4 separate regions of the Homo sapiens genome follow, and all the other regions are linked to region 1. The links come from fine-mapping of genetic effects on gene expression. A gene starts in region 1. Each other region holds a variant in brackets. All regions are shown on one strand. Distances are from middle to middle. Region 1 holds the start of GASK1B (golgi associated kinase 1B). Region 2 overlaps LOC105377509 (a long non-coding RNA gene). Region 3 overlaps TMEM144 (transmembrane protein 144). Region 4 holds the start of LOC124900801 (a long non-coding RNA gene).

What was found.
Region 2: its variant is fine-mapped to the expression of GASK1B in whole blood (INTERVAL, PIP above 0.99).
Region 3: its variant is fine-mapped to the expression of GASK1B in whole blood (INTERVAL, PIP 0.92).
Region 4: its variant is fine-mapped to the expression of GASK1B in whole blood (TOPMed, PIP above 0.99). The same link has a PIP of 0.9 or more in blood mononuclear cells.

What each region holds. Positions count from the first base shown.
Region 1 is chr4:158,168,507-158,176,616 of GRCh38, reverse strand. It overlaps GASK1B (golgi associated kinase 1B), which reads left to right and starts at 3,592. Exons shown (of 5, transcript NM_001128424.2): 1 at 3,592-3,749; 2 at 5,018-6,151. The coding sequence starts at 5,242. It overlaps GASK1B-AS1 (GASK1B antisense RNA 1), which reads right to left and starts at 5,865. Exons shown (of 5, transcript NR_147410.1): 1 at 5,137-5,865. LOC101928007 (a long non-coding RNA gene) reads left to right here. Exons shown (of 4, transcript XR_007058350.1): 3 at 2,351-2,503; 4 at 2,809-2,929. RefSeq lists enhancers at 4,216-5,415, 5,589-6,109.
Region 2 is chr4:157,961,758-157,969,867 of GRCh38, reverse strand. The region is part of intron 2 of LOC105377509 (a long non-coding RNA gene); the gene reads left to right. It also overlaps the pseudogene RPL6P11. Among named protein-coding and RNA genes, the nearest start is that of GASK1B-AS1, 200 kb to the left of the region's middle. The variant A/C (reference allele first, on the strand shown) is at 3,363.
Region 3 is chr4:158,244,624-158,252,733 of GRCh38, reverse strand. All of the region lies in intron 12 of TMEM144 (transmembrane protein 144), which reads right to left. Among named protein-coding and RNA genes, the nearest start is that of TMEM144, 38 kb to the right of the region's middle. RefSeq lists an enhancer at 7,368-7,869. The variant A/TA (reference allele first, on the strand shown) is at 4,611.
Region 4 is chr4:158,004,363-158,012,472 of GRCh38, reverse strand. All of the region lies in intron 1 of LOC105377509 (a long non-coding RNA gene), which reads left to right. LOC124900801 (a long non-coding RNA gene) reads left to right here and starts at 2,718. Exons shown (of 2, transcript XR_007058348.1): 1 at 2,718-2,884; 2 at 3,344-3,575. The variant G/T (reference allele first, on the strand shown) is at 4,971.

The DNA of each region.
Region 1 (8,110 bases):
AAAGGTTGTAGCCAGGAACCTATGCTAATGCTGGGATTTTAATTATAATAGGGTTATGGGTCCTAGAAATCAGGACTATGAGGAGCAAGGGATAGGGTCCCCCAGTGGAGGAGTCTGTGCAGCACTGAACCAAGAACAAGGTATCCATCTCCAGGTCTGCAATCTATGCAACAAACCTGGGTCAGCAGTGGCAAGGAAAAACTTAATACTTAGCTTTTAAGTGATTGGAGTCCTTATATATTGTCCTTCACTTTCCCAAGGGCTCTCAGGAGATGGGCAAGCTGCCACACAGTCACAGCAAGTGACACACCTGACAGGAATGGGGGAAATGAGAGTGCTGTGGGTGGAAGAATGAGGCCCGATTCACTATCTAATCTGGTCCAGGAGTTGTCCCAGACTGAAGGCAAATAGCCTTTACCAAACTAGGATCTTACTATTGGAAGCCTTGAAGGATTTACGGATTACTTCATTGCCAGTGAAACCTAAGACATCATTTAATTGTAAAAAGGTGTTAACTTGCTCCTAGAACTAAGTATTTAACTCATAGTACAGTGAATTATAACTCTGCACATTAGAAGCTTTTAAAACTGTGGATTCCTGGGCCCTACTTTAGATCATTTAGAATCTCTGGGAAGATGGATGGGGTCTAGACACTCATATATTTTTAAAATTTTCAGGGATTTTACTGTTCTTTAATATTTAAACTTAATTTTTAAATGACTGAAGTAATATGCGTTTTTTATTGTAAACAAATTATTTGTTCTACTCTCCTATGTAGATTTATAACATATATACAAGGTATAAAGAATATAAAATAAATAGCTATTTATGTACCACCTTTTCCAATTTGATTGAAGGATAAGATATATATAAATATGGAAAAGTACAGAAATCACAAATGTATAGTCAATGTGTTATCCCAAAATAAACATACTTAGGTAAATCCCATCTAAATGAAGAAACAGAACATTCCCACAATCCTGCTTTGCTCATGTTTTTTCTCCATCACCATCCTTGCCCCTCCATAAAGATATAAAAAGTCCTCAGGTAATTCCGATGGTCCCTACCATTATCTTACTGTCTACTTTTTCACTTTATTTCTCTCATTGTTTTTTAAGAAGAGAAAGTACTTTAGGCATGAGAATTATTTGTCTCTCTGATCTAATAATATTAATAATAATGAATACTTTGAGTTCTATATGTTCACTCACAGATTATATTGTAAGTTATACACGAATGTTATATTGTGGCAACAAATTTTCAAGCTAACGCTTGTTCAAGGAATTTAGCCTTATTTTTCTAAAACTAAATTAAACTTCTCTGTTTCCCATGCTACCTGATGGCAAAAAACACCTTTCCATTCAGTTTCAACAGAGACCATGAGCAATTGATGGCAATTGCTTCCACATTCGAAAATGAGATATGGATCCGCAGTGCTAAGGGAGGTGGGTTGCTGCATTGGGAAGTCTGAGGTTGCTGGAGCAAATGATGGTGACCATGTCCACTGGATCACTTGTGGGGCAGTACACAGAGGCCCAAGTTAGAAAACCAGCCTGCAGGTCAGCTTAAATGCTGCCTAAGAGAACAGCCTGGAGAGATGAGGTGATCTCAACAGAACAGGGGGCTACCAAGTTCCAAGGGACTAAGGGGCCATCAACAGCCAGCTAGAGAGATGCTTTGATAGTGGTGTCTTTGAATTAACTATCTCAGAGTCAGCTTTACACACCTGCCAAACCTGGAGAGCTTATAAGTCAATTTGCAGCAGTATCAATGGAGTAGCAAGGCCATTTCTGCTATTATTGCTTCTCTCTCTCCACTACCTTGGAACAGCCAGAGCCAGGCTCAAAGTGGGGTGAGCGGCTGGGTGAGTGGTTAAGGAATAAGAGCTCTAGGCAGGAACAAAAAAGAATGTAAGATGGGTCTCCTCTGTCCCTTTTCAGTAGATTTTGGCTATGCTTTTTGAGGGACTGCTATCTTCTGGAGAAATTCTGGGAATTTAAAAGAAATTTTTAAAGAAATTGACTGTGATATAGAATCAAACATATTAATTAGTTTATGTGTATTATGTGTCTGTATGTCTATGGCTAACAACTGGAGAACTTTTACAAAAATTTAAGTATGACTGGAAAAGTCATGGGGACTGCCTGAGTTTCCATTTAAGAAAGTTGAAAAGAGATATCAGGCCACAGAACAGGTTTCAATGGGCAGTGGGGGGAATCACTAAAATTGTGCTCTGATTATATCTGACAAGCCCCATTTATCCACTGTATTGGCTATATCAATATGTTGGCTACAAATAATTCAGTGTGCTTGTCCTCAATTCTACCATGATTGCTTTGCTGTGGTGCAGTGGTGACTATCTGTCAAGGCCTGGGCTGAGGAGAGAGGCCTCTGAGCAGTTTAATGAGGCATCATGGGGGATAAAAACAAACACATTGCTGAATATTTCAAATGATCATTCCAAGGCTGCTATCTCATTCAGTCATCAGAAGAAACCGATAGGGTAAGTGCTATTATTTTTCTTTTCTTACACATGGGGGAAACTGAGGCTTAGAGAGGTAAGATTACTTGCCACAGGGGACCACACGTAAGAGGTAAATGAGGAGAATTTAAAGCCAGTCTGCCTCCCTCTTCAGCCCATTCTCTGAATATCATAGTTCAGAGTAGATAGTGTAGCCTCCACGAATCCCTATTGTGGCTATAGCAGGGGACAGTGTATTGTTCTTTTTCTAGGAGACATTTTTGGAGTGGGGGTGGGAAGGTAGTCAACGAAATTTACTAACTCACACAACTCTCCCTATCTCGTAGGCATTTCTCCATGAAAAAAATAGCTCTAAAAACAGCTAGAGGAGATGTCTGCTTATTATAACTGGCCTCTGCCAAAGGCTTACTTTTAATTGTTATAGAGCCAGGTCAGTTATTCCTTTGACTGTGGAAATAATAAGATGGTTATAAAATGCAGCTTTGGTATGGTTTCCTTGCAAGAAGTTCACATTTTCTATCAAGAAAATAATTCTGTGTGTATGGAAGTGTGTGCCTAAGAGTTTTTGAGTGCAGATAAAATTGTTTTGATGCCTGAATTCTCACAAAGTTTAGCCAAAATATCCAGGTACTTCCAGGCTACTGTCAATATTGGGATTGCTCCTTCTCATTCCTCCATGTGGCAGGACTTTTAAAGAGGAAAAAAGGACTGAGTTTAGAGTGCTGAAATAACAGCCCGATTATAATTTTTGTCAATTTACCACTTGGACGTTTATTCTCTCCTTCCCTATATATTCCAACTCCTTGCTCTTTTTGCATTGTAAAATATAGTATTTTTAGGATTATACACCATATGCTAATCTTTTACCCACTCTTCAGTATCACAACTTTCTTTCTCTGTGGGGAGGAAAAATCCCTGTCCCCTTTCTGTCTTCTTGCCTTTTGATTCTATTTGCCATAGTCTAATTGACACCCCAAGGTCATCAGCCCCTGCCTTTGTGCTAGGACACGCAAACCACCCAGGCCAATCCCTAACCTGTTTTTTCAAAAAACCTCCAATCAGAGAGAATCCACGACTTCCTTTTGTGAACTGTTGCACCGTGCAATTGCACACTATAAATGTCTTTCCTTATCTGTGTGTACTCTTATCTCACTGTTCTATTTTTTCTCCTCATTTATATTAACTCTTTCTTACCTTTTTTTCTGAACTTCTAGGCCTTCTCTTTCCAGAACTGGTGGAAGACAAATGAAACGGCCAAGATGGTAAGGTGAGTAGTTCCTGGGAACGCTTGTGCTCTAACCCCAAGTTATGTGGGATGGACACTCGAGGGGTGATGGCATTCCTCATTTTACAAGTTACTTGCTTGGCTGCGGCTGCTCCACCAAGATAGCAAACATTCTCGATCTTTTGAACTTCATGAGACTGACATTTCTGAGTCTGTTTGCGAACAGGACACTAGAGGGCTCCCAGGGGTTAAAAATAAGTGGAAATTTATTTGAATGAAAACTGATTCTCTACGGCATTTCTTTTTTCCGAATTTAAAATTAAAGTTTATTTTGTTAACTATTGTTTTTAAAAGCTTTGTATCTCTTAAAACCATGCAGCAGTCAGTTTCCAAGTTTTGCTTTGCAATCAGTAGTTTTCAAGGGAGCTTTTAAAGCTGAACTGAAATGTTTGAAATGTGGAACACTCTTGACCATGAAATATGTTCTACTTACATGCCTCAGCCTTTAAAAGTTCTTTGCATTAGAGTCAAGGATTACATTCTTCCTGGAGCCAAGCATGGGGCCAGCTGTGTAAGTAAGGTTGCTTACGAGTTTCTTCTTTTTCTTTTTAATAGTGAAAAAACAGAACTAGAGATGCTTTTATTTTCTTTCAGCTGACTTCGGTGGAAAGAAAAGAAATAAAAAGCAGTCAGAGTTGTGTTGTGTTGTGTGTGTGTATGTGTGTGAGAGAGAGAGAAAGAGAGAGAGAGAGAGAAACAGAATAAATGCAACTGCTTCCAAGATATATGGACATTTATGGCTTTGTATTATACTAACAATGTAAGCTAATGGAACATATTATTAATATGAAGTACAATTTGTACCTTTAGACTAAGAGAATATGTTTCTAAATTTTATTGTTAATACTTGCTGCTTGTACTTAGTTAATTCAGGACTTTAAAAAATAAAAATGGTATAGGTATAGAGTATTAAAAAATTATCTATTACTTGTCTTAAGTTCTTTCTGAATTTCAAAAAGGAAAAGCCCAGGTTTGTCACATTTTAACGCTTTTGCTTCAGAGTCAACTTAAATGACTCTAGGTACAAGTTATAAAACACTCTTGGATTTTTGTGGCTTGTTTTCACTACTTTCAAGTGACTATCAAATCTATACATCTATCTCGTTTGCATGCTTTTAAATTTTATTTTTAAAAACATTTAGTGGTGATATTTATGAAAGGAAATGATTACTTTTTTTCTTGACTCTTGTAGAGGAACTTAAATGGTTTGAAATTGTGACTCAGTTAACTCTGTATCCATTCATTCCCAGAAACAAGCCGCATTTCTCCTTGGGGAGACTGATAATTTAAAAGGTTTGTTGTGTCAGAAACATTCCCAGCTTCATCACCAACCCTTTCCTTCCACCTCTGCCCACTGGAGACCACTTATATCCCGAAGCGGACGCGGCAGCTGAAGTCAGGAAACCATGCATCACATTAGCAGGAGCCAACTGCAGACTTTAAACTCCGTTCAACATGTGGATGCGGCAGAGAAATGACCTGTCCAGACAAGCCGGGGCAGCTCATAAACTGGTTCATCTGCTCCCTGTGCGTCCCGCGGGTGCGTAAGCTCTGGAGCAGCCGGCGTCCAAGGACCCGGAGAAACCTTCTGCTGGGCACTGCGTGTGCCATCTACTTGGGCTTCCTGGTGAGCCAGGTGGGGAGGGCCTCTCTCCAGCATGGACAGGCGGCTGAGAAGGGGCCACATCGCAGCCGCGACACCGCCGAGCCATCCTTCCCTGAGATACCCCTGGATGGTACCCTGGCCCCTCCAGAGTCCCAGGGCAATGGGTCCACTCTGCAGCCCAATGTGGTGTACATTACCCTACGCTCCAAGCGCAGCAAGCCGGCCAATATCCGTGGCACCGTGAAGCCCAAGCGCAGGAAAAAGCATGCAGTGGCATCGGCTGCCCCAGGGCAGGAGGCTTTGGTCGGACCATCCCTTCAGCCGCAGGAAGCGGCAAGGGAAGCTGATGCTGTAGCACCTGGGTACGCTCAGGGAGCAAACCTGGTTAAGATTGGAGAGCGACCCTGGAGGTTGGTGCGGGGTCCGGGAGTGCGAGCCGGGGGCCCAGACTTCCTGCAGCCCAGCTCCAGGGAGAGCAACATTAGGATCTACAGCGAGAGCGCCCCCTCCTGGCTGAGCAAAGATGACATCCGAAGAATGCGACTCTTGGCGGACAGCGCAGTGGCAGGGCTCCGGCCTGTGTCCTCTAGGAGCGGAGCCCGTTTGCTGGTGCTGGAGGGGGGCGCACCTGGCGCTGTGCTCCGCTGTGGCCCTAGCCCCTGTGGGCTTCTCAAGCAGCCCTTGGACATGAGTGAGGTGTTTGCCTTCCACCTAGACAGGATCCTGGGGCTCAACAGGACCCTGCCGTCTGTGAGCAGGAAAGCAGAGTTCATCCAAGGTAACAGATTCACATGCTTCGTTATTTGCAGCTGTTGGGGATTCTGGTTCATTTTCTTTTTTCCCTCACTCTCTTTTTCTAAATGATTTTTCTCCACCCACGGTTCACATTTGGACAGCAGCAGCAGCAGCGTGTCTTTCCATGCGCTTGGCATTCTTTATTTTCCCAGCCTGGGAGGATATGAGAGTTCCAGGGAAATGCTGTATTGGACATGCAAGAGTAAGCCCATACTGTATAATCTTTGCTCTCCATTTCCCTCGCTTCACTTCCCAGTGGCTTATTAAATCTAATTAAAGCCAACGGCAATTTGCATGATGAGGAGAGGAAGCTAGGCTGGAGGCAAAGAACTTGCTGACAGTCAGGCATACTATTAAATAGGTTACTATGGGAGGAAGTAGAAGTTTTTAAAAGTAAGGGGGAAGCGGGTTATCGTTCTTGAGCAGATGGAATCTTCTTAAGCCGCGCAGAGCCAGACCATGTTAGGTTTAACCCCCCCTTTTTTTTTCAATGGATTTAACCTCTTTATTTAACAAATAAAAAGAATGAGCAAAAATTGGTGATTTGTTCAGTATGTATACTAACTAGCTGTGTGGTTTTATCAAGCCCCTGACTATGATCTATTGAGTCTGTCTTTCAAGATTCTCCCGTCTTGGGTGACAAACATTTTGGCAGGTTCTAACACATGTAGCCAGTTACTGCAGTTGCCAGCAAAAGGACTGGTCTGCGGTCATGCCCATGCCATATAAAGGATATTCTCTGAATATTAAAGCTATTCCAGGGCTCGAATACAAAGTACAGTGAGTCAGTGGCTTATGTTTGAATGCAGAATGATGCCAGAAGTTACAACTTTGAATCCAGATTGGCCCAAGAGGCTAAAATGTACCCCAAAGAGATTATAAGCTGAAAGGATACTTAACTTTCTCCATGTTACCATGAAATTTAGCATTTCAGTGAGGTTCCCAGGGAGCCTAGAATGGAATGGATTAAAATCCCTGGGAGTGGCTGAGACCCAACTGCATTTCCAATGGCTTTAGCATTATAATTTCATTTTAAAATGGATACCCCTGGAAGTACCAGTGATTTACTTAGAAAAATTGGACATTCCCTACTGATGGTGGTTCTTGTCTAAGTGCTCCAGATTCACAGGTATGCTTTGATGTCTCAAGTTTATAAAGCAGTCCACCACAGTTATGCCAATGTAAGAAACCTTCTCAAACATTTAATCTAATGTTGATAAAAATGAATTTTTATTGGGTGCCCACAATTTGCTAAGGATTATACAAATTGATTCATATGTGTTGGCTCCTAGAATTTTCATAACAATGCTATGAAGTGGGGACTATTATTATTTCCATTTAGTAGATGAGAAAATTGAGGCTTATTGAGACAAAGTAATTGGCCTCAACTCCCACAGCTAGTAGGTGGCTAAGCTGGGTTTTGACTATAGACCCAGCAAACTTCAGAACATAACTTCTTAGCCACTGGACTTAGGTGAATATGTAACTTATTATCCAAACTGGAACCGTGTGGCGTGAAAGGAGATGCTGGTGGGCATTGGGACAACAGGCCCACACTGACTGTTCTGAGCAGAGTAGAGCACAGGATCCCCCTTGTTATGCTGAAATCCCATTCATTTTCATGTCATAAAGGCCCCAGAGAGGAGAAGATGAACTCCTGTGTATATCCTGAGGCAGAGTTCTCTGATATGTCCTTTGAGCTTCCCTTAGACGCTCTTAGACTACTGTATTGGGAGAATGCAGTAGTGGCTAAGAGCCTGGGCCGTGGAGTTGGACTGACTAGGTTTGAACTTACCAATCATACGACTTGGAAATGTTGCCATGTCTCTTTATGCCTCAGTTTCCTCAGCTGTAAAATGACAATACTGCCTACCATATGAGATTGTTGTTAGTTAATACAGGGAAAACACTTAGAACCAGTATTTGCCACAAGATAAACCTT
Region 2 (8,110 bases), 210 kb after region 1:
CATATTATCAGGCCCGTCCCCATCTTGCAAGATGGTTGTGGAAACAACTGAGAAGCTGGATACTAAGGAAAATTATTTTTATAGACCAATATCTTTATTTAAAAGAAGCTAAAAACACTTTCTTATTTACATTAATGAAAGTCTGTGAAAGTAGAGGGAAAAGAAGCATGCCATTAATTTTAGTTCATGTTCCTTTATATTTTGCTCTTCTGTCCTGTGACTACCAGCCTTTAATCTCCTTTTCACCCAGATATTCAAGAGTCTTATTGGAACATCTGGAAAATAGCTTATTTATAAACAAGCCTGAAGCCAAGAAGGCTGATGGCAGTGGGAAGGTTGAAAAAAGTGACCTCAAGGCTAAAATGCCCAAGAAGGCAAAGTCCCACCGCAACTGAGATCTTGCCTTTTTCAGGGGAATTCGCAGGTATTCCTGATCTGCTATGTATTCCAGAAAGGCCATGGGCAAAAGGAAGTACTCAGCCGATAAATCCAGGATTAAAAAGAAAGAGAAGGAGGTCCTTGCTATGGTTACAAAACCAGTTGGTAGTGACCAGAATAGTGGTACCCATGTGGTTAAACTTTGCAAAATGCCTAGGCACATCAGTAGATGATGTGCCTTTAGGGCTATTGAGCCATGGTAAAAAACACTCCAGTCAGCATATGAGAAAACTGTGAGCCATCATCTCTCCTGGGAACATTCTGCTCATCTTCACTGGGTGCCATCGAAGCAAACAGGTGGTTTTCCTGAAGCAGCTGAGCAGTGTTTTGCTGCTTGTTATTGACTGAAACTTGGATCCTCAATCAAGTTCCTCTGTGTAGAGCACTGAAGAAATTGTCATCACCACCACCACAAAAATTGATATCAGCAATGTGGAAATCTCAAAACATCTTACTGAGGCTTACTTCAGGAAGAAACAGCTGTGGAAGCCCAGACAACAGATGGTGACGTCTTTGGCACAAAGAAAGAAATATGAGAAGGCTGGGTGTTGTGGCTCACGACTGTAATCCCAGCACTTTGGGAGGCTGAGGTGGGCAGATCATGAGGTCAGAAGTTCAAGACCAGCCTGGCCAACATAGTGAAACCTGTCTCTACTAAAAATACAAAAATTAGCCAGGCATGGTGGCGCCTCTAATCCCAGCTACTCGGGAGGCTGAGGCACAAGAATTGCTTGAACCCAGGAGGCGAATGTTGTGGTGAGCTGAGATCGCGCCACCGCACTCCAGCCTGGGCAACAGAGCAAGACTACATCTCAAAAAAAAAAAAAAAAAAAAAAAAGAAAGAAATATGAGATGACAGAGCAGGGCAAGGTTGACCAGGCAGCTGTGGACCCGCAAATTTTACCAAAAACCAAAGCTATTCCTCAGCTCCAGGGATACCTGCAACCTGTTTGGCCTGAAAAACGAAGCTTATTCTTAGAAATTGGTATTATAAATTTCTTACCAGTAACATAGTTAAATAACTGATACATGAAAAAATCAACCAAACAAAAAGAAACATATTATCAGCATCATGGATTTTACCAACACACTTTAGCTGAGTATATTTTATGTGTAAAGAACTACTAATAAGCCACGGAACACCTTGTTACTTCATTATACAGAATTCAGTTGGGGAATCCAGCTACTAATAATATATGTTAGACATTTATGACATATTACATTAAATATCTATGCATAGTATATATTAGTCACTAATAAATGTGAAATGACTTATAAGTGCTATTGAATGTGATAATCAGAATTAAATAAAGTAAACATCACCAGGGTCTCATTAGTTCTCTGAAAAGTTCATATTATAAATGGGCCATTAAAGTTACATGGAAAGTAAGAGTAGAGTTTGGAAGAAATAGAATTAATCTGCCTGATTCTCTACAACCTAAAGTTATGGGATATTACTGGAGTGAGAGCTTTAGTTATATGAATGGCACTATAATATCAGGTGGTTTTAAAATCATCCTTCCATTATTAAGATCCACTTGTAATACTAAAAGAGTTTGTCTTTTTGTAAGGGGAAGGACATTACTACCCTAAAAACAACATATATTCTATTGTGCTACGAATCAAGAGTATACAAGTAGAAAGAACATGGCACATCAAGGCTGAAGAAGGGGCTGATCCTTTATAGCTTAGTTATATTTTTGCTACACTGTTTGGATTCTGAAATAAAGATATATGGTTAAAGAAATATGTTGTGTAGCCGCTTTTATTGACAGAATGAGAATTGATTTTGTGCATGCCATGCAGTCCAATGATATACAGTTGTATATACAAATGATATATAATGTTTCTTGATTTTGAGAAGCTTTTACATGGCCTGGGAACCTAAATACAAACAAAAGAAACCATATAAACTATGTGTAATGGGATAGACAAGTGGGATTATTTCTAGCCATTCATGATGAATACTAAAAGGGTGTTGTGCTCCTCCAGAAGCAAGGAAGAGGAAAACTCAGCAAAGCATGGAAATTAGGCCCTTTTGCCACCAAATTATTTAAAAATACATTGACTACTTACTGTGTTCATTGCGTGGGCAAAAAGAAGAAGCTTCTGCTGTCATATTCTTTTTCTTTTTTCTTTTTTGAGATGGAGTCTCGCTCTGTCACCAGGCTGGAGTTCAGTGGCGTGATCTTGGCTCACTGCAGCCTCCACCTCTTAGGTTCAAGCTATTCTCCTGCCTCAGCTTCCCGAGTAGCTGGGATTACAGGCACGCACTACCATGCCCAGCTAATTTTTGTATTTTTAGTAGAGACAGGGTTTCACCATGTTGGCCAGGATGGTCTCCATCTCTTGACCTTGTTATCCGCCCACCTCAGCCTCCTGAAGTGCTGGGATTACAGGCATGAGCCACTGAGCCAGGTCTTGCTATCATATTCTTAATGAAATAATATTAATTTAATGTGTACATAGTACTTTAACTTTCATAAAGAACTTTAATGTATGATCTTACTTGATTCTCACAGCAGTCCTTCAAAGTAGGCATACTTCTTTATCATCATCTATTTAAAAATGAAATAAATAAGTAATGAAAGTAAAAGTTGAATAAGGTATTTGAAATGCCTTTCTTTCTTAGAGAAGTTATATACTTTTTTGCTTCTTTTTTAATTTTGGAAAGAAAATTTGACTACTTTTGTTATTTCAAGGAGGCTGTGTAGATTGGAAATTATATTTTGTTTGGTTGTTCCTCAAGGTGTATTTTTCTCCCCCATCTAACTTTTGCTCATCAGGACACGCCAAGTTGATGCTACGTAACAGAAAGGTGTTGATGAGAAAGCCTTCATCACCTCATTAGTTTATAGTCAAATGTGATTTACTTGGGAGGAAAGTAGCCACTGTCACCCCACCTGTCAGGATAAAAGAGAATA[A/C]AAAGTTACAGCTGTATGCCTAATGTAATTCTGGCTCCATTGGGGAGAATAAAAATAAATGTTCTCATTTTAAATTGCCTCAGGAAAAAGCCCTGAACATTATTAACCTGGCGTAATGTTTTCAGGCAGTCACTACTGTAAAACTCAGGTCCCTGAAAAGCATGATGCAGTAGCCCATATTGGCTTCTTATGGAAATAGTGTTAAATTATGCAACTTCAAGTTTGCCTCAATATATTTTAATAATTTAACACTGCTGTTGATTTCATCAACAGGCAAAAAGTATTGATTCATGAGAAAAAGCACATAATTTCATATGTAAAATCTAGTTAAGCAACAATTAAAAGAAATGCAATATTGTAGTCACCATTATATACCTTTTAAGTCTTGTAGGTAAAGGGAGAAATGATATATATTTGGGAATACTGTAAAAAGATACATGATACTACAGTGGGAAGAAGGGGAACAAACAGGAAAGAGTAAGGTATATCAGGGTTTATGCTGGAGTGTATTGAATTATTAATAAATACTTCAATAGCATCCTGAGATTATAGATAGCATACATGACTTTAAAGGAAAATAAATGTTTCATCTGGGACCAAGTAAAATATCAACAAGTAGGAAGTTTTATCATGTTTCTAACAAATCCCACCCTTCTTGATGCGAATTGTTTTGTTAGTGCTGGTGAAACTGTATACTTGATTTCAGTAATGTTGGGTACCATGTCTATGTTATTTTTCCTATTTTATGGATTTTTTTACCTTTTGATTTGTATTTTGCTTTTGAGTAGGTAAAATTCTTTTACTTTGCCAACCAGTCTTGGAGATAAGTCATAGATATGGTTTCCAATCATTCAAGAAAATACTTCATTTGCTTGTTTGTACTTAGAATCCACTCTGTTTTCTGAATATTTGCCCTTTTGAGTTTCATCAGATTGTGTGTTGTTAGACAGTCCTCACCAGATTCGTGGAGCTTTTGGTTTTTATTAGACATTCTTTGGGTATACTTAGGAAGTAGTTTAATGTCTTTGAATTCAAGTTGCAGAGTCTGATACTTTGCTCACAGTCACAGTGGGAAAATAATGAGAAAAATAACCACCCCAGCCTTTGTTACCATAGCGGAAAGTGAAGGCGAGAGGAAAGGTACTATAAATATACAGTTTCTCCCCGTCTCTACCGAGATGTCATCAAGTATTAAAGCTACTTGTTGCTGAATATGAACACCATATAGAAGTCATTGGTGAGCTTTATTGAAATAACACCATAAACTGAATACAGACTTAGGGTTGAATAGTGGGAAATTATATGCTGCATAAAAGGAAGGAAATTTTCCCTGGTGTTTTAAAACTGCATATGACAGTGTAAATCAGCGATAAAGGCCTGGTAGCTATCAGGAAGAAAGAGAAGCTGTTGAATGGGTTTTGATAATTATCCCAAAGCTTAGATAGACTTCAGCCTTTGATATATGTAGCACAATCTAAAAATAGCTGATTTAATTGCTCAACAGTTGTCTGCTCATTAGGCCTTAACCTTAGTAATGCATCAATGAATGACATCCAAGGCTTCAGCCCTCCAAATCTCTGCACTTGAAAATCCTCTTGTCATGCTCACCTTAATGCTGTTCTCTAAGGAAGGTATTTGCCAATGGGGAAGACTCTTGCATATAGAATATTGGAGTGTGGTTTCAAAACTTAGGTTAAAAGCTGTCAAATCTGTGCCTTGAGTGAAGGCCAAGTTTTCCATAGATCAAAGGTAATTCAGTATTGACTGTAGTCCAACTTCCCCTCAGGCAAAAAATGCCAGTTAAGCTGCTTTGGTTTAAAACAGGATGTCAGGCTAATTTTATCTTTTTTTTTTTTATTAAATTTTCTTGTGCAACTTCTTTATCCAGCTCAGCAATCTGATGCTCTCATTTCTGCATGAGACTGCATTTTTAGAGCGAGGAAATCATGGTCTTATCAAACGGGCAAAACCCTTACTTGGAAATATGGGAAAAGTCATTCTAACCTAGTTGTTCTTCAGTATCTCTTGCCTCCTCCTTAGAAATAGAAATTTTATCAAGGGATGCAGCCTTCAAAACAAAAACTGTATTTTCCCTTCTCCCTTACTACTAGGTGAGGGCTGGTGATTGGGTTCTAGCCAATAGGGTATAAATGGAAGTGATCTGTGCAGTTTCTAGAAGTATCCCCTCAGAAACAGCTGGTGCACATATTTGCCCTTTGGTCTTTGTCTTTTCCATCCTGTGGTTTGGAACATAGATGTGATGGCTGGATTATCATCTTGGAGTATGATTGTGAGGGCTGTATCCTAAAATAACAGAAGAGAAAAGTGTAACAAGTCCCAGTGTCTGAAGACTTTTCAGAACTCCTTTGTCAGCTTTGTAGGACTACAAAGGGCATTGCAGGCTGTTTTGCTTGCCCTGAAACTGTGAAAATCCAGAGGGAAACTAAACTTCTAACTTGTTTATTTTTATTTTTTATTTATTCATTTAAAACTTTTATTTTAGGTTTGGGGGTACATCTGAAGCTGTGTTACATAGGTGAACTTGCTTCGCAGGCATTGGTTGTACAGATTATTTTATCACTCCGGTATTAAGCCTGGTACCCAATATTTATCTTTTCTGCTCTTTTTCCCCATCCTACCCTTCACCCTCATGTAGACCCCACTGTCTGTTGTTCTGTTTTTTGTATTAATGAGTTCTGATCATTTAGCTCCCACTCATAACTGAGAACATGCAGTATTTTGATTTCAGTTCCTGTGTTAGTTTGCTAAGGATAATGGCATCCAGCTCCATCCATTTTCCCACAAAAGACATGATCTTGTTCTTTTTTATAGCTGCATAATAATCCATGGTGTATATGTATCACATTTTCTTTACCCAATCTGTCATTGATGGGCATTTAGGTTGACTCCATGTCTTTGCTATCATGAATAGTGCTGCAATGAACATTCGCGTACATGTGTCTTTATGATAGGATGATTTCTGTTACTCTGGGTATATATCCAGTAATGGGATGGCTGGGTCGAATGGTAGCTCTGCTTTTAGTTCTTTGAGGAATTGCCATACTGCTTTCCACATTGGTTGAACTAATTTACACTCCCACCAACAGTGTATAAGCATTCCTTTTTCTCCACAACCTTGCCAGCGTGTGTTATTTTTTGACTTTTTAATAATAGCCATTCTGATTGGTGTGAGGTGATATCTCATTATGGTTTTGATTTGCATTTCTCTAGTGGTCATTGAGGTTGTTTTTATTTGCTTGTTGGCCGCATGTATGTCTTCTTTTGAAAAGTGTCTGTTCATATCCTTTGCCTACTTTTTTAATGGGGCTTAAACTTCTAACTTATCAAAGCTATAGTATCTAAGTTTTCTAGTATTCATAGCTGAAACTAACATTAATCAATACACCTTTAAAACAGTTTTGTTTTTTATTTGCGTGCTGGAGTTGTTCAGGTGTGATTAAATTAAGCACACCAATACATACATATAGACTTTTTAATGTTATAGTTTGAAAAGCCTACCATAAATACGTGGAACTTCAAGGAATGTTCTTGAAATATATGTATTTTCAAAGGCAGACTTGTTTAAATATGACAGAAAACTAACTTTGGTATGGTGATTTAATGCAATTGTACATGCCTGAGAATCATTCCTATAAAATTGCTAGCAATAAATATTTAAATAAAACTAATTCAATTAAACATTTTTACTTAAGGTAGGGATTTTTATTTGTAATTCCAAAATTCTTTGACTTGGATAAGAACATTTATACTAGCTTTGACCAAATAAAAGTTTTATAAAGCTTGCTTGAAACACAAACTAGTATGCTGGCTTACTAATTTAGTTTTTATCAATGAGCATCACTTTCAGTAGAGATAGGTTGTCTGATAATAACACACAGAGCCATTATGTGTTAATGTGAATAATGTCATCATTTTGGTGAGGCTTCTGTCTTTGCTCTGCCAATTCTTCTTGGTAAATTGTAGACTACATTGCTTTCTGAATTATTCTCTTTCTGTAGGCAGGAGCTTTATAGGCAAAAAAAAAAAAAAAAAAAAAAAATGGGATGTATATTAGCACCATTGCTGTCAAGTACCCTTGCTGTAGAGAAACTTCTCAGACATTAACTTTTCTGCTGTATCTGAATTACCATGTGCTGTTATTTACTTCTCTAAAAGTTCTTCTAAGTATTTTTCTCCATAACTTTAGGCATGTCCACCTCAGTCATCCATGATGATTGCAATTCTCTAGCCAGTCCTTTCCAACCTTTCCAGGATGTCTCTGCTGCTGTCTCCTACTCCCCAATTCTTCCATCTTCTCCTAAACTTTGGAGCATTCTCTAGAAATCAAGAAAAAGGAACAACTGTAGCAATGTGTGGAAATACTTTCAGTTTTTAATAAGCTTTTGCTACTGTTATCTGCAAACACCAATTAAATGTCAACCGGGACGGAAACGTGATGATATCATAATGGATCATGTTCCCAATACTATTTAATGATGGTATTTATTTATCAGATAATTTTACCTGGATTATATTTATATATTAACTTCTAGTTGATTTTTAACAATAAGCCCATTATATCAACCTTATTTATCAAAATTATAGATCATTGTTACAATTTGGTGACACTGACATTTTGCAGACTTGTTTTCTGCTGGGTAATAAACCACCAGAGGTTATGTGGGTGGCTGATGACAAAGAAAATTCAGTTGGTATCTCAAGAGAATTCCTACTTTTGGCCACAGTAT
Region 3 (8,110 bases), 76 kb before region 1:
TGGGTTCAGGTGATTCTCCTGTCTCAGCCTCCCAAGTAGCTGGGATTACAGGCATGCATCACCAAGCCCAGTGAATTTTTGTATTTTTAGTAGAGGCAGAGTTTTACCATGTTGGCCAGGCTGGTCTTGAACTCCTGACCTCAAGTGATCTGCCCACCTCTGCCTCTCAAATTTGGGTCCTGTTTTTCCAAGCAAAGAGGAAGACATTAAAAAGACAGGCAGCTGGCTGTGTTAAAATTTCAGACTTGCATTGTGTAAAGCTCACACTTTTCTGCAGGATGGCAGACAGATTGGAGGGGCCAGAATGGATGCAAGGAGACCAATTAGGAGGTGACTGTAGTCTCCCAGGGAAAAGATGATGATGGGTAGATGGAGAGATGGAGATGGATCTGAAGGGTGAGGAAGAAATGCAGAGAGGGTGTGAAGAATGACTTCGTTGGACTTGCTCAGTTATGTATGGGGTGCCTGGTCTTAAAGATGGGAACTACTGAGAACCACTTCTCTGTGTTGCCCAGCCCATCTTTGAATTAACAACGAAATATCTTCCTGTGTTAAGTAGAAATATTTCATTTCCTATAAGTTCCATCACTAGGAGTACAGATAGATCGATTTTAATATCTCTCCCACAAGATAAATCCTCAATCATTGAAAAATAACTCTCATATATCCCTGGAGGCATCTCTTTTCCTGGTCAGTATTTTAGCTCTTTGACCATTTTTCATATGGAATGGTTTCAAGCTTCCTTATTGTCCTGGCTGCTCCCCCTGAATGACTGCCATTTTGTCTATATCCTTCTTTATGTTTAAAGAGTCTAATTTATTTATTTTTTTAGTGAAAGTACAGAGACTTGTTGCAAAGTGAAAAGTACACACTCAAGAAAGTGGAGTGCGGACATACTCAAGAGAGAATCATACAAGGGGGTTGGGGTTCCTATTTTCATCATTTCTTTAGCCGAGGGGTGGAATATTCATGAAGATTCCTGGAAAAAGGTAACAATTTCTCAGAACTGTGGTGTCACTCATTTTTACACCAAATATGGGTGGTCCCAGAACTGTCATGGTGCTGGTGGGTGTGTGATTTGTATGTTAATGAGTGTATAATGAGGTCCTAGGTGAAACCTAGGGCAAATCCAGCACCATGTTGGGTTCAATTGGTCTTAGCCAGCTTGATCCACATGCTGTTTTTCAGGGTCTTATCAGCCCATGGCCTCTGCAGCTATTTCAAGTTTCCTTTTGCTAGTCATGTGAAACTGCTGCCTGGGATTTTCCTAATCTGTGACCACCCTGTATTATTCCTGTCTCATCCCCCCCACTTAAAGATTTCTATCCCTTATCCTTAAGGCTTGATGTGGGAGGAAGTCAGTCTTCTGTATCTACTTCCTGCTGATTAAGGGCATTGGCTCTGCCAATGAGGGCATGGCAATCTCTGGCTGCCTGGTCTAAGGGTCCCAAGGGTGGGTCATCAGGAGAGTCTGAATCCAAGGCGGAAGACTCCAGTATTCTAAGGGAAGGTTTGAACATTACAAAGTAAAACAAGACTAGCACCTCTCTAATTTTAGATACATCTAAGATTACAATCAGATAATAACACTATTTAATAATACTATTAGATCCTTCTTAAAAGGAAAAATAACAATGGTTCATGGGTAAGTCATTGTAGAAGACACATAAGGGTTCTGGAAAAAGAAAAAAGGAATGGAGAGGAAGCAACTCTAGGCAGCAGTTGGTATCCTGCCAGCTTCAAATCTGTAGGGAATAGGGCTGGTGTCCTCCCTCTCTGGTGAAAATTCTGGCCACTGAGGTCCAACAGGTTAATAGCCTCACACTACCCAAATTTGGGCAAAACTTCAGGAAAGGTAGTGGGAATAGAATGCTGTGTTTTTGGTGCAAGAGTTGACTGACTTGTTGGGGGGAGTGGGTTCATAAAAGCAGGACCCTGGGCTGTTAGAGGCTAATCCTCAGGGCTAATCTGATTCATGAGTATCTCCCCTAATGCTCACTCAAGGACTCAGTGAAGAACATGCACCAAACTTGGGTTCCTACAGCCAGGCCATGCAAAGTGTAGGCTTAGGGAGACTCATTTCCCCCAGCATAGATGCAAGGGGTCAGAGGGTAGAGGGTGGTTCTGTCTTTGCTGCCTTGCAGCCAGGTCAGCTTTGAGGGAAACCCAGAAAGGGAAGTTCTAACTGGGCTCCCACAGGAAACAGGGTTGGGGCAGGATAGACGGGTTGACAGTAGGAACACGTGGCTCTCCTGGCTCCACAGTGAAATTCTCACTTCAAAGAGTGGACTTTTGTCTGGTTTCATTTTGCCTACTTCCCTCACACTTCCTTAAAGGTCTTGTGTTTCTAGTTTACTGGAAGAATGCAGAGATCAGAGGTAAATTTGTGTAATAAATCTGAACAGAACAGAAACAAAGTCCAGGATGGAGGGAATGTGAAAACTGCCAAGGAAAGGTCTTTTGTATTATTAGTTCGTAAGATTAATGCTAACTAATATGTAACTATATATATATATATATATATATATATATATATATGTTATGTATTAATTAACAAAATCAAATAATTATGTTACTAACTAAATTATATATATATGTTCCCTTTCTTCAACTTAAAGAATCAGAGTAGATAAATTTGCCTCTGTTTGATGACCAGAGATAGGTCTTTGCAAGTTAGGTTGGGGCCAGTTGAATTGTCTGATTCAGTGTGATCCTTAGCACTAACAGAAGCCACTTTAATCCCAAATTCTACAAATAGAAGCACCCGAAAACCTTGCCAAGTGCAGAACAGCTTATTTAAACACACACACACACACACACACACACACACACACACACACACACACCTGGCAGTAGGCTTTGGATTTCCCAGCACCTTTTTTTTTCTTAATTTTTAAGACTGCAATTCTCACCTAGATACTGGTACTAATGCAGAATAGGTATTCCATAAACATTTGTTCAAACAACAAATACACTAAGGTGATTTCCACGTATATTTTGTGAATTTGAAATTGATGCAATTACTTAAATTAAAAAATGGGTCTTCAGTTACAAGCACTCTACAATCTAATTACGTGAATACATTGCTAAGCGCTATTTTATTACCTATGTAGACAGAAGAATAATGTTCTCAGGGAATGAAAAATTTTTTTCCCCTTCAATGTTAAGATTTTGCTAAAACTGTCCAGTCTCCTAGAGAAAAAGACTAATTATAGTTGGGCAACAGCAATGGTTTTCCTTCATCAAAGGTGGATGTTAACTCTTGGAAAGAGCACACTAACATTCTTCCCAAAGCAGAAAGTTTTTTAACTTGGATTTCTACTAAGATAATAGATCATCTCATTCTTCACCAGGGAGTAGCTTACTGACCTATACATTGTTGTGGTAGTAACTGCCTGTGTTGGCATTACTGTAGACATACTGACTAAAGTGTGTTGGTAAAAATATAATTTATATCTAGCTTAAAGATTTAATAATCTAAAATGAATTTCCCAATGAGTAACAGATATCAGATATAAAAGAATATCAGGGCCGGGCACGGTGGCTCACGCCTGTAATCCCAGCACTTTGGGAGGCCGAGGCGGGCAGATCACAAGATCAGGAGTTCGAGACAAGCCTGGCCAACACTGTGAAACCCCGTCTCTACTAAAAATACAAAAATTAGCTGGGCGTGGTGGCGGGCTTCTGTAATCCCAGCTACTCGGGAGGCTGAGGCAGGAGAATCGCTTGAACCCAGGAGGTGGAGTTTGCAGTGAGCCGAGATCGCATCACTCCACTCCACCGTGGGCAACAGAGCGAGACTCCATCTCAAAAAACAAACAAACAAAAAAGAGTATCAGAAGTATGAAAACATCCAACTGATGCACTGATGGCATTAAAACTAAATGGAATCATTAAAGTCCTTCACACAAAAGGTGCTTGGCTCTCAGCTTTATTCCTCGCAGCTGTAGGTTGTAGACTTTTAAATATGCGTCTTCAAGGACTGCTTTAAGATATATAACTGACAGTACCTATGAGTCCTGCAGATAACAGGTTTGCTTTTGTTTTCTTCTTTAGAGTTTAGGGGTTTTTGTCCTGTTTCTACAAAAATACTTTAAAAATTATTCTTATGATATTTAGGCTTTAGTGTTCAGTTGATGATGCTTTTCTAAACTGATTGGCATGTAAGTATTTAAAATTTTTCTTTAAATCAGCTGTCAAGAGGCAATTAGGTGTCTGCATTGAATAAGTACCATTGGACATCTGTTAAATTTTGCTTGTAGATGACATATAAGATTTTTTGTTTATTTATTTATGTGGTTAGTTATTTTGAGACAGAGTCTAGCTCTGTCACCCAGGCCAGAGTGCAATCTTGGCTCACTGCAATCTCCACTTTCCAGGTTCAAGCCATCTTCCCATCTCAGCCTCCCAAACAGCTGGGACTAGAGGCATGCACCACCACAGCAGGTTAATTTTTGTATTTTTGTAGAGACAGGGTTTTGCCATGTCACCCTGGCTGGTCTTGAACTCCTGAGCTCAAGTGATCTGGCCACCTTGGCTTGCCAAAGTGCTGGGACTACAGGCATAAGCCACCATGCCTGGCCCCAGGTTTTTTTTTTTTTTTTTTTTTT[A/TA]ATTCTTTGCTTTCAGCTTGGCCCTCTCTCTTCTTTTAATACTTGTAATCTTATCTTAGTCATTTTTTTAAAACAGAAAAGAGCAAACAGTCATTTTCTTAAGTTTAGAAATCCTTATTTTATAAGAAAACTGGCCTAGCTAATCTAAATTGCACATTTCAGAAATATGGTATATGTGCTGTCATGCTTTTTTTTTTTTTTGCCTATTTTTACATAAATAATTAGCCAAACTTTAGGACCTACTCTAAAAATTCTAGAAAGAGCTTCACTGGGATTTTACAGGAATTATACTGAACGTAATTAGAGAGAACTACCTAATTATAACAGCGAGATGTTCCATCAGAAATGTGACAAGTCTCCTATATTTGTTCTGATCTTCTATGTCCTCTAGTACATGTTTGTAGCAAAGTAAAATACAGTATTTTAAAAACCTGGCACATTACTTGTTAATTCTTTAATTAGATTTTATGTAATTTTTGTGGTTATTATTAATAGCATTTATTTTCCTCGTTTTAACTGGTTGTTGGTGATACATTGGAAGGCAACTGATTTCATATTTATTTTATATCTCAAGCCTTACTAAATGATCTTATTGGATGTTAAATTTTTCAGCTGATTCTTTTAAATTTTTATTTTAATTTTTAATTTTTGTCACCAATAAATTGAAATCACAATGTGTACATTTTTTAAAAATGTAATCTGCAAATTATAATTTTCTTATTTCTTTTCCTATATTTATTCATTTCATTTCTTATTCTGGTGTTTCCAAACTAGCTAGATCTATAGGAAATATCGTATAATAGTATGGAGAAATCCTTGACTTCCAATATATGGAGAACTCTTATGTTTCATGAAACTCAGGTATATAATTGCTATTTTGTTTTGATAGACATACTGTACCACTAAAGCTTCCTTTTATTTCTAGCTTATTAAGAGGTTAGTATAGTATTATCACGTCCTTTTCATATTTGATATGGTAGAGTAAATGATATTAATTAATTTATGTATTATGAACGATCCTTGCATTCCTGAATTAAACCCTATTGGGTCATAGTATATTAATCTTAAAAGTTACTTTTCTATTCAGTCTGATGTGTCTTTTTAAAGATGTCTTTACCAAAAACAAAACAAAACATTCCTCACTGTTTTTCAATTAATACTAGGCTTTTTGGTTAGGGATTCTCTTTGAATAGGGTTCTTATATGTAGTTAAGAGGATTTTCAATTCAGTATTATTATTGTAGTCATGACCAAAATAATTTTCAAATGCTTTAATATAAATCTATACTTGGTTTGTACTTCTTCATACCTATAATTACTAATAAACTATGATGACTAATTTGTAATTTTCTAAGGCTTCAGCATCTTACATGAGATAATAACCAATTCTTTAATATAAATAAATCTTTTTTTGTGAGGTAGATGAAATATATGCAGAGAGATTTACAACATATTTTGGGCATAGAGTTACTTTTTGTAGAAAGGAACTCTGACTACAATAAATGAGAAATGTTCACGAAAGTAACTTAGAGGTTTATAAATGTTTCAAGTTGTTCTTGTGTATTTAAAAAAAATAAAAATTCTGATCATAGTCCACATATTTTTGAAACAAGTTTATTATTTTTTAAATCTGAGAATGTTACTTGTATTATCAAATAATGGATTTTAAATCAAAATATTTCATTTACAATGATTGAAATGATGTTTTAAATCTAAAATTGAATAATCATTTTAAAGATCAGGTAGAAGTACATTCACTTTATGGTTGTTAGAGATTAGCAACATCAATCTCCTTAGAACCAGGAATTATTTGCTACTACAACTGCATATTAAGACAGGTCTATGATGACTTGATTGGGGAGGGGTCTTTGGATCAACATTGTCTTTAATAAAAATTCTTATAAAAGAGTATTTGCATATATTCCTCAACTGAAGACTTTTTCTACAAGTAAAGGTAACTGGGAAAAGTTCCAAAGCAATTTTTTAAAAAAAGATTAAACATTTTAAAATCTTTAAATTGTTAGGGAGACAGGGTCTTACTATGTTGCCCAGGCTAGACTTGAACTCCTAGGCTCAAGTGATCCTCCTGCATAGTTGGACTACAGGTAGATGCCACCATGCCTGGCTAGAAGGGGAGAAGTTCTCTGATTTTGTGAGTTTTCTTATTCTTTCTTTTTTTTTCTTTTTCTTTTTTGAGGAGACAGGGTTTCACTCAGCTGTCCAGATTGGAGTGTAGTGGTATGATCATGGCTTGCTGCAGCCTTGACCTCCTGAACCCAAGGAATCCTCCCTCCTTAGCCTTCTGAGTGGCTGTGACTACAAGTGTTCCTCACCACACCTGGCTAATTTTTAAATTGTTTTTGTAGAGATAGCGGTTTTGCTATGTTGCCTAGGCTGGTCTCAAACTCCTGGGCTCAAGCAATCCTCCCGCAAGTGCTGGGATTACAGGTGTGAGCCACTGCTCCTAACTTGTTTTATTTTGCTATCGACAGTTTGGGCTAGGTTATATGACCCTCACCCCCAAAATTAACTGAGCATTTATTGTGTTCTTGGTAGTGTTTTTAGCACTTTACTCATATTCTCTCAGCTCTCTTGGTTGGTTATCCCCATTTTCAGATAAGGACTATACACACAGAGAGGTTAAGAAACTTGGCCAAGGTCACACAGCTAGTATGTGACAGAGCCAGGATTTGAACCCAGTTGGACTCTTGAGACTGTACCTTTTGTTGTCGTTGTGATTGCCCAGGCTGACATCAAACTCCTGGGCTCAAGTGATGCTGCTGCCTCAGCCTCCTGAGTAGCTGGGAATATAGATGCATGCCACCATGCTCGGCAAAGTGATTTTTAAAGAAAACATACATACACACACACACACACACACACACACACACACACACACACACACACACACTCTTACTAGAACTATTTGATGAATGCAATTTTAAATTCCCATCATTTACATTTGAAAAGGAAATGGCAATAGCCTCCTGTTACCATGCTGTTTTCCTACAAAATTGCTGGTTTGACATGGAGGTCTTTGGGAGACATAGGAACCAATATAAACATCTATTCCCAAAGATGATTTACCTCAGGGGATACTTTAACCTTTAGGATAAAAAAAAAATCTTTCATCTTGTTTATCATATTTTAAACAAATTTCCCTCTCTCATATTTCACTGGGTTATTTAAAATCACTTCAGGGAAATTTAAGTCAACGACAGCATTTTTCCATTGGAGATGGGGTGGAGAGAGACATGATGTTACATTATAATTATCATAGCTCTAGTATTTTCTTTCCTAATTAGGTATTATCACATTCTGAACATTTTATCTGTCAAATCCATTCATGAGTTGTTGGCCCTGGACCTAGGCACCACAGGCAGTTTTCAGATAATAACACAAACATATTAAATACTTTACTCACCTGAATGCATTCCCATTTTCTTTTCTTTTTTGAGATGGAGTCTCGCTCTTTTGCCCAGACTGGAGGGCAGTGGCGTG
Region 4 (8,110 bases), 160 kb after region 1:
GACAATCAAATTAAATTCATATTTGCATATATGTAAGTATGGTTGAACAGTATAAATAATGCCACCTTTATGTCTAATAAATTATACTACATGAAAAAGATGGACTGCTCATCATCAACATATTCTAATTAAATCTCTTCTGTGAACTGAAGTGTGCAGTTCACAGTATGCATGAAAGCTTTACAGGCTTTCAGTTTCTTAAAGCATTTGAGAAGGATCATAAAACTGTAAACAAACAGAGTCCTCTCTAAATAACCAACTTAAGTCTCCTATCATAATTAAAATAATTTTCTAAAAGCACATGATCCAAATTGAGCCAAGAATTAATTTAAAAAATAAACAGAAAATAAAATAATATTAAATATGAAACTGAAACTATCTACAAAATCACCTAATAAACAGAAATATGTTATATGATGACAGTGAAGTTTACATATTCTTCCCACTTTGCTAGAGATCAGTGCTTGTAGGGGAAGAAAATTTGAGAATTATCAGGATGATATTTCTTCTTATTTCACCAGGTACATGTTAACATCTCAGTTTTCCTAAACTAAATGTATGCATTTTTCATTATAAAGTACCTTTACTCACTTAAAGCTTCCAGTTAGCAGAAAGTTCATTTCTATGTGGCTTTGGGATTTGTACTCTTTATTTGGGCTAAAACCTTGTGAAGCAAAGACAGCTGAGGGGAAAGGACAAGAAGCTACATGGAATTCTTCACCTTAAGGCTGGAGTCAGAGAGGAAGGGAGTGCCAGCGACCCCAGACGTGTGTCAAGGTGTTCCCCTGCCAGAGACTTGGAGCCAACTCCAGCCACTACCTGGTGAGATACTGTACTGCCACTGCAACAGAACCATCTCCAGGATCCACTTCACTTCTTTACAACAGCTTGCTCTGTGACAAACCCAGTGCCTAATCCTACCTCCCTGCACAAAGAAGATGATTCAGGTGCACACTCTTTGCCAAAAACTTTAATATTGACAGTAGTCTTTATGTTGTGTTTCAGTCCCACTGATAAGTGCAGGAGGCAACTTGAGAAGAACTGATTGTGTATAAACTAGAGCCTTGGTAAATATATCAGAATATCAACACTGTTATAGCTGGAAGGCACTGGCTTCCAAAAGTCTTGGCCACATCCCCTAGAGGGGCACAGGAATGATGCAGGGGTGGGGAGGGGGCACTAGGATGGGGACCACAGAGAGTTCTGCTGTCTTTGGGTTCCACATGTCAAACAAGCACCAGCTACAAATGACAGTTCCAAAAGACTCAGCATTGGTACATTGGAAAATACCCAATAAATGTGGTAAACATAAAAAAAGTGAAATTTGACCATTTATCAAAGTTATTTGTGATTATCAAAACAAAACCCCCCAAATTTAAAATGGCCATATTTAAACCATAGACTGTAGTGACTGTACAGGCTGCAATGATAGTGAATGAATATTTTAAATTCAGTTCTGGTGACAACTATGACCAAAGGTGATATTTTCTAAATTTATTCCTTTAGAAAATAAGTGATACAATTTCATTTGTTTAATTTTTTACAAAGGTAGAATTCTTCATAATCGGGAAATGCTATTGCCTTTTATTCTCTAAGAGTTAAGCAATGGCCATAAACTTCAGTTCTATTTGATCATTTGTTCACATCTGCATGTTAACAGGTTGGCTTGTGATGAACCGTATTCAGCTAAAGCCACCGAAGTACTGCAATATAGGGCAAAACAAATCATACAGTGTTTTTAGTGGGCTGTCAAGATACTTCACGTTTTTTTCAAGCATTTTCTACTGCATTATATAATGTTTCCTCTAGATATTTCAAATATTGCACAGTGTAAGATCCCCATATTCACTCTTCTCAAAACAGACCTTGGCAGGCCAGACATGATGGCTCATGACTGTAGTCCCAGCACCGCGGGAGGCTGAGACAGACGGGCGATTGCTTGAGTCAGGGAGGTCAAGGATGCAGTGACCCATGATCACACCATTGCATTCCAGCCTGGGAGACAAAATGAGACCCCATCTCAAAAAAAAAAAAAAGCCCAAAAAACAAAAAAAGTAAACAAAAAGCAGACATTGGCCATCATTTCCCTTTAGAAAACTAAACCTTAACCTCCAAAGAAATGCCATTCCCTCATTTATACTCTCCTTGTGCACTGTAGAGACTTCTCTCAAAGCACTTATAGTGATAGATTCATTAAATCTGTCTATCTCTCTCTCTATCTATTATCTATCTATCTTGCTTGGTTATGAACTTACCCTATTTATTCCCTCACACAGACTTATGTGCCCTATGCTCTGAGGGCTTAGGCTGTATTCATTTTTACATATTCAGCTCTCTGCTCCAAATCTAGCACACCTAGTTATTTAACAACTATGTATTAAGTGCTTACATAGAGTCAGACTGGTGTAGTGGAACAGCGCATTAGCTGTGTGATTGTCAGAAGTGTTTGAACCAGAGCAACTCCATCTTGAATAGGGGCTGGTAAAATAAGGCTGAGACCTACTGGGTTGCATTCCCAGGAGGTTAAGGAATTCTTAGTCACAGGATGAGACAGGAGGTCGGCACAAGATACAGGTCAAAAAGACCTTGCTGATAAAACAGGTTGCAGTAAAGAAGCTGGCTACAACCCATCAAAACCAAGATGACCTCGAAAGAGATCTCTGGTCGTCCTCACTGCTCATTATATGCTAATTATAACACATTAGCATGCTAAAGGACACACCCACCAGCACCATGACAGTTTACTGTTGCCATAGTAACATCAGGTTGTTATCCTCTATGGTCTAAAAAGGGGGGAACCATCAGTTCGGGGAATTGCCCACCCCTGTCCAGGAAAACTCATAAACAGCCCAGCCCTTGTTTGGTATATAATCAAGAAATAACTGTAAGTATCCTTAGTTGAGCAGCCCATGCCGCTGCTCTGCCTATGGAGTAGCCATTCTTTTATTCCTTTACTTTCTTAATAAACTGACTTTCACTTTACTCTGTGGACTCACCCCAAATTCTTTCTTGCGTGATATCCAAGAACCCTCTTTTGGGGCCTGGATCTGGACCCCTTTCCGGTAACATGATCATGGGTAGTTACTTTATCACTCTTTATTTCCTTTTCTTCATTTTTAAAATGTGTGTAATATGTCATTTAGTTTGCAAGGTTGAAGGGATTGGAGCACAAACCTTCTCAACAAGCCTGAGGAACTTGCCCTCAGGTTTGTCAAGGAGCAAGGCTGCAGCCGACAAATGGAGCCACTGTTCTCTGTTTCTCTGCTGTGTCAAGTTCAAAACTGATGACCCAAGAATGGAGCTCATCAATTTCAAAAGGAAATAATTCTATGCTTTTTTTTAGCCTCAGAAGATAAATATTTCTTGTGGTACCTCTGACATGGCAACATGCCCATGCACGTCGGCAGTGAATAGATGGGGTTGGTGGATGGAAATGGCAAACAGACCGGACAGACCTCACCCAAAACTTAACAGCAGCAGGCCCTGAGAGGGCCAGTGAATCTCTCCATGATCCTTGGTTAGTGGTCAATCTGAAGCTTTTCTTACCGAAACAAATAAAGATATGTCTACAACAACTGATATCGACTGAGAGGCATATCAGGCAGGGGTAGCTGCCTGAACTCTGAAAGGGACAGAGAGGAGGCACAGTGAAGACAAAGAAGTAATGTGTAACTTTTGGGGAATGAGGAGGCTACAGAGCCTGATGGTAAAACTATGTCAGCTGCTCAGGAGGGAGAAGCTGGAAGGGAGGTTTGTTGTTCTTGGCAGGCGGATGTGGAGGTTGGAATGAGTGTAGTCCTTTTAAGTTTTGTTTTGTTTTCTTTCCAGAATATCAGTGACCTTTTCTCCCAATCTAAAAATTTAACTTAAGAGAATATATTATGTGTAAACTTGGGGCAATAAGGGCAAAACAAAACAGCAGCAAAAACAAGGCAATAGCATTTGCTAATCTTTACCTGACAGCTGAAATAGATAGCATTTGTAAAGATGCGGCTCAAAGAAAGTACTCACAATTGATAATTACTGTTGTTGTTGATGTTTAGTTGCGGATCTGTTATGAGTGCCATTTATTTGTCACTAGGCTTTTGTTTATGTGCAATTCATTTTCTCTAATATATTCATAACAAATTTATACAAAAAGTATCAATTTCCCATTTTGTATTCAATGGAATTGAAGTTGAGAAAAATTAAATTAACTGAATAAAGTCACATAGACAGGAAGTCAGAAATCAAATGCAGACTAGTATATGTCCAGGTTCTTTCTTTTACATGGCATTGCAAATATTTAACATACAAAGTGTGAGGTTCTAACCTATACAAATATAGAAAATGGAGGAGCAAATGGATGGCAACTAAAGTAGGAATACACTAAAGATCTATTTTCTATTAATCCACACTTTTCCTTATTTTGACATTGTTTCTATCCCAAGCACAAGTAAGTGTTTCCATTTGGATGCTAATAGGTGCAAGCTTCCCAGCTTCACTTTTAAGACTTGTTAAAAGAAAAACTTTAGTTGAATTAAATTTAAGAGAGTTTAATAGAGCAAAGAACTATTCGTGAATCATGAATCAGCAGCCTCCTGAGCCAGAGTAGGCTCCATGACTTCAGCACAGCCACGGATGTAGGGACAGAAAAAGCAAAGTGATGTACAGAAAACATAAGTGAGGTGCAGAAACAGCTAGGTTGGTTACAGCTTGGTGTTTGCCTTATTTGAACAGGGTTTGAACAGTTGGCCACATCTGATTGGCCAAAACTTGGTGATTGGCCTAAGAGTAGGTTACAACTCCATTTAGTTTATAGTTCAGGATGTACAGAGAAACATTTAGGGTGAACTTAAAATATGTAAGGAGATGGCCTTAGGCTAAACATAATTGAACCGACTTAAGAGATTTGAATTGTTCCCATAAATTGTGGGAAACATCAATAATTTAAAGATGATCACTTATATCATCTTTCATCAAACTATAAT[G/T]CTGTATTCAAAAAGCAAGAAACCACTGAGAAGAGAAAAACAACAGGTTTACAAGTTATTAATAGCCTAAGTCACAGCTTTGGAAGACAATTAACATTTTTAAAGACAATTATAAAACTTATGAACATGGTTTCCATAGTAACCACTGTTTGCTATTTAATTAGGATATTCTTAAAATTCTGTTATAAAATAAAACACTTCCAGCAATTGTCAAGATATAAAAAGGTTCATGCTGTGTTATGCATGGTAAGGGTTTTCCAGAATTAATAAGGAAGTGTGAACTTGTTGGTTTGTTGTTCTGCTACAGCTGAGGGAAAATGCTGTAATACAATGAGTAGGCACTTAGCCAGGAGGCCATTTCCTAATAAAAACAGTTAGCATTGTGCCATAAGCATAAGAAAAACAGCTTATAAAACACCATATGAAACTTGAACTCAAGGAAAAAGAGGATATGATTTTTTGTAACATCCTAACTTAAAAATAAATGTTCTCTCTTTTGGCCACCAGTATAATACTTAAAATAGTTTGATAATTATTTCTACAGTTGTGTCACTTTTTCTTTTGAGCATTAAAGTAGGTGGCACATCATCCAAAGTCAGGCATTTAAAACATGCACCTTAAAAATAGTTTGTTGTCCGCCTTAAAATACTCTTGTTTATGAGCCTTCAGCAAAGTGTTATTTTTAGCCAACTGAAGTACTGATATAGGAGTAAATGAAAAGAAAAAAAGAAATTCTGGTGGAACTCAACAGAGACAAAGCACACAAAATTTGAATATATTTAGGCCGTAACACTCCAGTTTCTACTCTGTGTGAAAATATTACAAATAAGCATAGTTATTCAAGAATTATAACTTTCTTGCTTAGAAAAGAAGTAGTATACTTAAAGATTTTCAAAAGGACCACACATTTTGGAAATAACAGTATAACTGCTATTGCCAATGCCTTGTTACAAATTATTCTAAATCCTGTATAGTAATTTTCTGCTTAAAGCCAAAATAACAAATACAGTGTGAAAAACAAAACCCCATCGCTGATTGACGAAACCTCTGTATCATATGTGAGAGACATACACAGCAGATCACATGTTTTTGTTGTAGTCTTAGAAATGATGATGACTTTGGAAACATATGAATCTGTTTAGAAGTTTGGAGAGGTCTTTACAAAGGAAGAAAACAGATAGCTGAGCTTTAGTGGGTAAATAGAAGTTTTCCAGGGAGGGAAGAGAAATAAACATCCAGTCAGAAGCCTAATAAGAACCAAGTCTCTAAAAGGTGAAAATATTGGTTATGCTTGGTGTGGCTATGGTATAAAATTGTGCAAGGGGGAGGGAGAAATAAATTCAGAAAGTTAGTTGGGATTTTATTTTCCTGTTCAAAGTGAATGCAAATTCAATCTCAAGCGTGTCTAACTAAAAAGATAATTAATTAGCTTATGTTACTGAAAAATCCAGAGTTAGATAAATGTAAGCTTTCAGTCTCTCAATTCAGGGTCTGATGCAATTAGTAAGACTCAGTTTCTTTCTCTTCATCGTTGAGCTCTGCTTCCCCTCTGTTGGGTTCATATTCAGCTACAGACTCTCCTCATCATAAAATGGGCCTTTGCCTTGTATCCTGAACCAGGTCCCTTCCATGTTTGACCTGTAATTTCTTCTCATTGAATCAGTTTGGTCACTTGCCCATTCCTGATCCAATGCTGCTCTGCACCATTTGGCCAGGTGTATGGTGCTACTTTACCATTGAAGTTGAGAATAGAGCTACATTTGAATAATATAGGGGGCATGGGTCCTGGCAAATTAAAAAAAAAAACTATAATCCATCCCTTAGGCTAGCAAAAGTACAAACAGAACCTTATTCTTAAATTCCTTTTTCCCAGTTACTACATTCACTCCAAGTCTATGGCCTCTGGTCAATATTAATTCCTTCTCATCAGGTCTGGGTGTAGTTCCTCATGGTCATCAAGCATCATCAAACAAGTAGAGAGTTTATCTTTGTCATATGCAAAACACATTGATAGAAAATACAAATATGTACCACAAAACTTCCATTGGATGGAAAGAATGGGAAACAAAACACGGTGGCCTATCTGGCTCAAAAAGAATAGCAAGGATTATTTGCTCCATTTTCCCTGACACTGTAAGTTCTTTTGTCAGCAGACCTGAATTAGTCACCCTAGTTGTATTTTACTCTATAGTTTTCCTTATTTTTGTCCTCAGTGGTCATGTGTGAGATGTGTGTGTTGGGTATCCCCCATCTGTTTCCCTTGCTATCCGATTAGGAATTTGGGATATGCTTTAGTGGTTGTACTTGCAGCCTGTTTTATTCCAGTGTTGATAGGACAATTCCATTAAAACTTAAGTGGACTTTCAATCTGTCCTCTAGACAATTCCATGGGCCAGTGCCAAAGGCCAGAAATCTCCTCAAGCTGGTCTTTGTATGAGAACTAGGCCCCATGTTTTTCTTAATTAATACCCGCCTGACACATTGCTCTGCCTATCTTCCTTACCCTGAGAATCTGCATCTTGCCCCTGCCTTGGGCCATTTAACATAAGGACTGGGGCTGATGTGGGATCTTTATACTGAGGTGACCATCCCTCTAAGTGTAGTTTAAAAGAGGAGCTTTTCGAAGAATCCTGAGGAGGATGGCTTCTCTCTGGTTTTAATATTACCTCCTGTGATTGCTCCTACTTCCCTGCTTTTGCTGGCAATAACTTTAGTTTGGAGGAGAGAATCCAGCTGTCTGAACTTTCAAATTTTTCTGTGACCTCGAATGGAAAGTCTCAGGCAAGAAAGGTATTTCTTGGTAAAGCCATATATTTTTTTCTTCCTGTCTTTACTTAGAGGAACAGATTTCAATGTCAGCTTCTTTTTAAAAAGAAGACTTACAGTGAACCATAAGAACTAGCAAGCATATGCCACAATTCTACATTTTTTAAATTCAAGACGATTAGTTCTATTGTCTCAGTAAGGATAGCTTCTGAACACCAAGCTAATACGTGTGTAAATTTACCTATTTGTAACCTCCGTTACCAAATTACAAGTGTTACCCAGCACGAAGTGTTAGAGTCCTCCTCCCTCCTTGATTCTTCCAATTATGAATTTAGTGTTTGTCATTTGCATTGTTCCATTCTTAGTGTTAGCTT